Linked DNA regions of Homo sapiens. The protein of the gene in region 1 purifies or fractionates together with the protein of each later gene. This does not show direct contact. Each region holds a gene or a part of one and is shown on either strand. Other genes may lie near its edges. The genes, in order: SLC36A1 and DLAT.

The links.
Region 2: the proteins of SLC36A1 (region 1) and DLAT purify together in Homo sapiens (affinity purification with mass spectrometry; one large-scale study listed by BioGRID and IntAct). This does not show direct contact.

The regions. Positions count from the first base shown.
Region 1 is NC_000005.10:151,457,445-151,461,266, forward strand, and holds part of SLC36A1 (proton-coupled amino acid transporter 1), read left to right. Parts: exon of another isoform or gene 1-1,255; coding exon of another isoform or gene 1,256-1,348; coding exon 1,349-1,491; intron 1,492-3,822. UniProt on the Homo sapiens protein: Electrogenic proton/amino acid symporter with selectivity for small apolar L-amino acids, their D-enantiomers and selected amino acid derivatives such as 4-aminobutanoate/GABA.
Region 2 is NC_000011.10:112,056,169-112,059,990, forward strand, and holds part of DLAT (dihydrolipoyllysine-residue acetyltransferase component of pyruvate dehydrogenase complex, mitochondrial isoform 2 precursor), read left to right. Parts: intron 1-3,734; coding exon 3,735-3,822.

The DNA.
Region 1 (3,822 bases):
GAGTAAATCCACCCAGGGGACACCACTCTCACCACCCTCCCAACACATTGAAAGGACATTTTTTTCTCTCACCATTTTAAAAATGAGCACATCTATAAAAATAAAAAGGAAGAAGAGTTGTGGATGGGAGATGTTGAGACGAGGGCCAGGGTGAGCACCTTTCAGTTTCCTGGTCCTCCTCTGAGCTGCTTTCAGCTACCATTTCTCAGTACTCAGGTTGGCAGCAAGAAAGGAGTCCCAGGGTCAGGGTATAAGAGTTACTGGTGGCCTCCAGAGAGTATAGGATCAGCCTGTGGTCACAGCAGAGAGAAAGAGAACGGCATGTGTGGCTCTGGGATTTGGTGGGAGTTTCAGCAGAATTGGATGATCCAGAGGGGATTTCTGTTTTCTTTTTTTTTGTTGTTTGTTTGTTTTTTTTTTTGAGATGGAGTTTCGCTCTTGTCGCCCAGGCTGGAGTGCAATGGCACGATCTCGGCTCACCACAACCTCCGCCTCCCGGTTTCAAGCGATTCTCCTGCCTCAGCCTCCCGAGTAGCTGGGATTACAGGCATGCACCACCACGCCCGGCTAATTTTGTATTTTTAGTAGAGACGGGGTTTCTCCATGTTACTCAGGCTGGTCTTGAACTCCGGACCTCAGGTGATCCGCCCGCCTTGGCCTCCCAAAGTGCTGGGGTTGCAGGCGTGAGCCACCACACCCAGCCCAGAGAGGATTTCTTGAGTGAAATGTGTTCTCTATTGAAGGCAGAGGAAAAAGAGTATACGATGAGAAATACCCAGATTTCCATCCCCCCAAGAGCTTGTACATATATATATATACGTGTGTATATGTGTATACGTGTATATATATACATACACGTGTATATACGTATATATATATATATATATATGGGATATTTATATATATATATATACACACACGATTGAACTATTGCACAAGGTCCAAGACATTATCTCAGAAAGGAGTAGATAATCCTGACCTAAGGAATAGGGAATGCGGAATTCCAGGAAGCACTTCTCTTTCATTTTCCCCCACTCCTCCCAAGCAGTGCCTCACTTCTGCCTTGTCTAGCTGTACTCCGGAAAATTAAGAAATTTATGAGTGTAGCACCACGTATACCAATGGGAAGGATGGGAGTCAGAAGTCAAGTGAACTCAGCCCGCCTCTGTGTACTTTGCACTTTTCCATTTCCCTTGGTACCAGGCACTTTCATACTTAATCCATAGTGGAGCTGTCACAGTGAGCAACTCTGACAATGACAGCTTCTACCCCAGAGGCCACCCCAAATATGGAGCTAAAGGCTCCAGCTGCAGGAGGTCTTAATGCTGGCCCTGTCCCCCCAGCTGCCATGTCCACGCAGAGACTTCGGAATGAAGACTACCACGACTACAGCTCCACGGACGTGAGCCCTGAGGAGAGCCCGTCGGAAGGCCTCAACAACCTCTCCTCCCCGGGCTCCTACCAGCGCTTTGGTCAAAGCAATAGCACAACGTGAGTAGCTGTTACCTTCTCCTCTCCTGGGTGGGATTCGTGTTCCTAAGCCTCCCTTGGACTTATTTTTCCCCCCAATTTCATCAGTCCTCCACTTTACAGATGAAGGTCAGCAGTGAAGAGATTGGGCGAGTGACTGCGCTGAGATTTGCCTTCCTGGGCTGCCACTCTCTAGGCAGTTTCTTACTCTTTTTTCCTTTCAGCTGTGTTGGCCCCCCAAGGCTGGTGCCAAGTGAGAGCTTGGACTTAAAAAAAGCTTCTACAGAGGACATTCTTTTAATTTAAAAGTGTGTCATCTGTGCTAGAACCCCAAATAATTTCCAAGCATAATCGGAAGCTTCCTTTGCAAAGTCTCCCCCCGAATTCTGCCCCATCACCAAATCAGTATTCATTTGACTGAAGAAGTGGGAAGAGAGAAGAATTAACTTCTGCACTTAAAAAATTCAGGGTTGGTAGGAAAGGAAAGATAGACTTTGCATTCTCCAAAGAGGGCTTAATCTCTTGTCTCCAGAAACTGGGACCCCAGACTCATTTGGGCTGAGTTTGGCCCGCTTCAGGTCTCACTTTCCCCAAATGTAAAGAAAAATTGAGGACTCCACCACAAAGCTATGCTGGCTGTGTGGGGCTCACCACTTGAATTAGAAAATTCAGAGGAAGTTTTGCTACTCCATTGAGTTAGTTTCCCAGCTACTCCTGATTTCAGCAGACCTCTGACTTTTCTCTGTGTCCCAGCATCTCAGCTTTTGCAGTCCTGTTTATTCCTCAAGCTTAGCTATTACCTTTTCTGTGTTTTCTTGTGGACTGAGTGTGACTTACTGAGAGATCCTTCATGTCCTAGACTTATGCCATTCCTGATGACTGCCCAAGCGGACCATGGAAGCTTCTGGGCTCATCACTGGAGAAGCTCCCTCTGCCTGCACTGTCTGCTGGTACAGGGCATTTTCTCTTGCGAACTGGGGTGGAACTAGAAGAATGTCTGTCCACATTCCTGGCCCGTCACCACCACTAGCTGATTTCTATGCCTCAGGCTGGAAGTACTCAACCAGTCCTCTAAGATTCTGTTTCTGTAGCTTATTTCTCAGGGGTATGCTTTTGTAGATTCCCCATTAGCCTGCAGTGGGAGTTAGCTGGTGGTAGATTGCTTAGAGCACAGCTGGCAGCAGTGTGGATCACCCTGCCCCTCTTTCCTCCAACCTTATCAGCATTGGCAGCCCCCATGCAGAAGCATCTCCACACACAGCCAATGGCATGTGATGGCTTCCCTTCAGAGGTCATGCTTGTTATCGTAAGATACTTCTAAGCTTCCTTCTCTGTAGTTTCCTTTGCAGTTTTTGCTCCTTTTTGATCTCAGATATCAACTTGTCTAAGCAATATTTAGCAGATGAGGTCTGGATTTTTATGTTTATAGAGACATCTCTGAAGCTCAAAACCTACCAACTAGCAACTTTAGGATAGTAGCTCATAGGTTTTGGACAAAATTATGTCCTTGTTTCTTGGAAATCGAACAAATCAGAAGATACCTTCCTCAGGCTTGTATTGTGACATTTTCCAGGGTATACTTTGTTCCGAGTTTCCCTTCCTGCCTTGATGTTGTGATACAGTGTAGGTGACCAGGGAAGCCTATCTGTAGTTGATGGCAGGTATTACAGTCCCATCACAGGTGGTACAAGATAAAGTAATTTGCTGGGGCTTAGAGGACTGGTTGAGTACTTCCAGCCTGGGGCATAGGATCCACGCAAGGATTTATATAGAAAACATGCCAGGTATGATTAAGGTAGAGGTTGATTTGGAGGACCTTCTTAACCTAAATTAATATTTTAATATGTCGGAAGTGTTAGAGACAAGTTTTTGAGCTGGGTTCCTTTTATATTTCTGGTTTGCCCCACCCTTTTATCTAGTTTGCCAAGGAACAAAATACATGGAAGTACTTCTACACCTACTGCACATATGCATGCACACACCTGGCTCTTCTAGAAGTCAAGGGCTCAGCAAAAACCCCTAGTTAGGGGGTGCAAATAGGAACCCCAAACACTTCCATGAGTTTCATGGGTTACTTCCTTTTATTTTTTTGAGACAGGGTCTTGCTCTGTTGTCCAGGCTGGAGTGCACTGGCACAATCATGGCTCACTGCAACCTCCATCTCCTGGGCTCAAGTGATCCTCCCACCTTAGTTTCCTAAGTAGCTGAGACTACAGGCATGCTCCTGGCTACTTTTTGTATTTTTTTTTTTTTTTTTGTAGAGATAGGGTTTTGCTATGTTGCCCACTTAGTCTTAAACACCTGGGCTCAAGTGATCCGCCTGCCTCGGCCTCCCAAAGTGCTTGGATTATA
Region 2 (3,822 bases), on another chromosome or scaffold:
GTAGACACTTTTTAACATTTAATTTGCCATTTTACGTATCATAAAATGTACCTGCTCTAAGTGTACAATTTCTTGATTTTTGTTAAAGGTGCAGAATTACGCAGTCTTTACCACAATCTAATTTTAGAAATTTTCATCACCCCCAAAAGATCACTCATGCTCATTTATAGTAAATTCTTATTTTCACCTTCAGCCCCTGGGCAATTTGTTATAGTGCTTGAGTCTATAGATTTGTATTTTCTAGACCTTTTATAGAAATGGAGTCATAAAATATGTGGTCTTTTGCATCTACTTTCTTTCACTTAACGAAATGTTTTTGAGACTCATCCATGTTGTAGCATGTATCTGTAGTTTATTCTTTTTTATTGCTGTATAGTGTTTAATCGTATCAATATACCTCTTTATCATTCACCAGTTAACATGTTTTCCAGTTTTTTGCTATTATGAATGATGCTACTATGAGTATTTACATACAGTTATTTGTGTGGACATATATTTTTATTTCTCTTCAGTAGATTCCTAGGAGTGGAATACCTGAGTCATAGGGTAAAATTATGTTTAATTTTTAGAGAAACTTCTACATTATTTTTCAAAGTGGTTGCACCATTTTACCTTCCCACCAATAGTGGATAAGTGTTCCAGTTTCTCTATGTCCTCATCAATATTTGTTACCGTGTGGGTGTGAAGTGAGAACCATCTACTTGTGAGAGTATCTCGCTTTATTGCACTTTGATTTATTGTGCTTTTTTATAAATTGAAGGCTTGTGGCAACCCTCTGTCAAGCAAGTTGATGGCACCATTTTTCCAACAGCATGTGCTCACTTCCTGTCTCTGTGTCACATTTTGGCAATTCCTAGAGTATTTCAAACTTTATTATTGTATCTGTTATGGTGACCTGTGATCAAGGATCTTTGATGTTACCATTGTAATTGTTTCAATGCCCCATGAACCATGCCCATATAAGATGGCAAACTTCATTGATAAATTTTGCATGTGTTCTGACTGGTTGATAGAATTGATAGAATTATCAACCAGCTGTTCCTCTGTCTCTCTCCCTCTCCTTGGGCCTCCCTATTCCATGAGACACAATAAAACTGAAATCAGGCCAATTAGTAACTCTACAATGGCCTCTGAGTGTTTCAGTGAAAGGAAGACTTTCACGTCTCTTACTTTAAATCAAAAGCTAGAAATGATTAAGCTCAATGAGTAAGGCATGTCAAAAGCCAAGATCGGTTGAAAGCTAGGCCTCTTGTGCCAAACAGCCAACTTGTGAATACAAAGAAAAAGCTCTTGAAAGAAATGAAAAGTACTATCCTGGTGAACACACGAATGATAAGAAAGTGAAACAGCCTTGTTGCTGATACGGAGAAAGTTTTGAGTGGTCTAGATAAAAGATTAAACCAGGTACAGCATTCCCTTAAGCCAAAGCTTAATTCAGAGCAAGGCCCTAACTCTCTTCAATTCTTTGAAGGCTGATAGAGGTGAGGAAGCCGCGTAACAGAAGTTTGAGGCTAGCAGAGGTTGGCTCATGAGGTTGAAGGAAAGGAGGCCATAATAACATAAAAGTACAGGGTGAAGCAGCAAATTATTCAGAAGATACAGCTAAGATAATTGATATCCCTCATCAGTCGGCAGCCATCAACATCAAGGCAAGATCTACCAGCAAAAAATTACAATTCACTAAAAGTTCAGGTGATTTTTAGCATATTTTAGCAATAAAGTATTTTTAAATTAAGGTGTATACATTGGTTTTTTGTTAGTCACGATGCTATTGCACTCTTAGTAGACAACAGTGTAGTGTTAAGCATAACTTTTGTATGTACTAGGAGATCAGAAAATTCATGTGACTCGCTTTATTGCAATATTATTTTGGTGGTCTGGAACTGAACCTGGAATATCAAGATATTTCTATACTTAGATGAAGAAATTGAGGTTGTCTGTTAATTCTAACCAAACACCATTCATTTACTTGTTCATACACCCATTCAACATTTATTTAACATGTACTGTTTACTGGATTCAGTGGTGAACAATATAGGGAATACTGTCCTTACTGTCTCAAAGGGAAGATGATTGAACAAGCAATATTGTAATAATTTATTCAAGAAAGCAGTATTTGCTGTGTGATACCTTGGCTACAGTTCTGTGGTAATTAATGAGTCATACACGGTATTTTTATTAGAGCAGGTTCCTGTGTTTGTTTGCAAGTGACAAAATCCTGCTCTAGCCAACTTAGGCAAATTGGGGGATTTGGTACCCACTGATCTTTTTGGAGCTTGTGCCTAGAAAGAGCTGGAGTTCTTTGGAGGCAGAGCTGTGCCTTTGTTTGAAGTCTTAACTTTTTCTCGATTGCAGAACACTAGCAGGGGCCCTTAGGCAGACCCCAAGGAGACCACGGATAAAATCCATGAATCCATGAGCTTGTGAACTTCAGTTGGGGTGGGGGAAGGGGGGGGTGGGGGGGGGGAATCACCTTTTTTTTTTTCTACTAACATTTAGCATTTCTTCCTTTTATAAATGTAGAGAACAGATCAAATGTTAACAGTACTTGTGTCTGGTGACCAATAAAAATCAGTTATTTTCATATCACATTGTAGTTGTATATATCTCAAAATGTTATTTTGTTCATCCCTGCTTCAAAATGATAGCCATTATTAGACCTGCAACAAGATCTTATTATTGAGTGAATACAGAAGCACATTTGTCATAATTTTGCTTTTGAACCGTTTGATAACTGAATTTCAGTATAGTTTCTCTCTTTTTTCTAGTAATTTGAGTATTTTCAGTGTTAAAAAGGTATTCTGAGATAAGATCCAGATGCATAGGGACACATTCTGTAGAAAAGATTGGGACTCCTTGATAACAGAAGATCTGATATTGTGTAAAAAAAAAAAAAAGATTGGGACCCCTTACTTTTACGTTCTTCTGAGGTACCACCACCCATGTATCCTGAGCACTCCTATTTCTTGCTACAATGCAGTTCTTTCCCTTCACTCTTCCTTTCATCTGCTCAAACTACTTGCAGAGACTCAACTGCAGCCAATGTACGTCCACTCAAAATCCAAGGAGTTCTGATTGGTGGGGTTTTCTTTCAGCTGCATTCACGTGTCGGTCAAGGCAGACGGCAGGGGATGTTAGACGATATGTGCGAAACCAACCTACTGCTGCTGACACATTTCTCATTCTTTTTTTTTTTTTTTTTTCTTGGCAGGCGGTGGGGTCAGGGGCAGGGGCAGCGTTGGGGGATGGAGTCTCGCTCTGCTGCCCAGGCTGGAGTGCAGTGGTGTGATCTCAGCTCACTGCAACCTCCACCTCCCAGGTTCAAGTGGTTCTCCTGCCTCAGCCTCCTGAGTAGCTGGCACTACAGCTGTGCACCACCATGCCCAGCTAACTTTTGTATTTTTGGTAGAGACAGAGTTTCGCCATGTTGGCCAGGCTGGTCTCAAACTACTGACTTCAAGTGATCCGCCCACCTCAGCCTCCCAAAGTGTTGGGATTACAGGCATGAGCCACCGTTCCCGGACCTCTCTTTGATTTTTAATAACTACAAGTCAAGGAGAGGGCACAGCAAAATGTAAAAATTAGGATAGACATCTTAATTTTTGTCTTTGGCTGAACAATAACACACATTGGTTCAAAAAATTTTTGAAGTAAATATAAATATTCTTGCTTAACCTGGCACACAGGCTCTTAATAAACAGTTTTTTATTATATTTATTTTTCTTTTTAAACAGAAATCATGTTGTTGATGTCAGTGTTGCGGTCAGTACTCCTGCAGGACTCATCACACCTATTGTGTTTAATGCACATATAAAAGGAGTG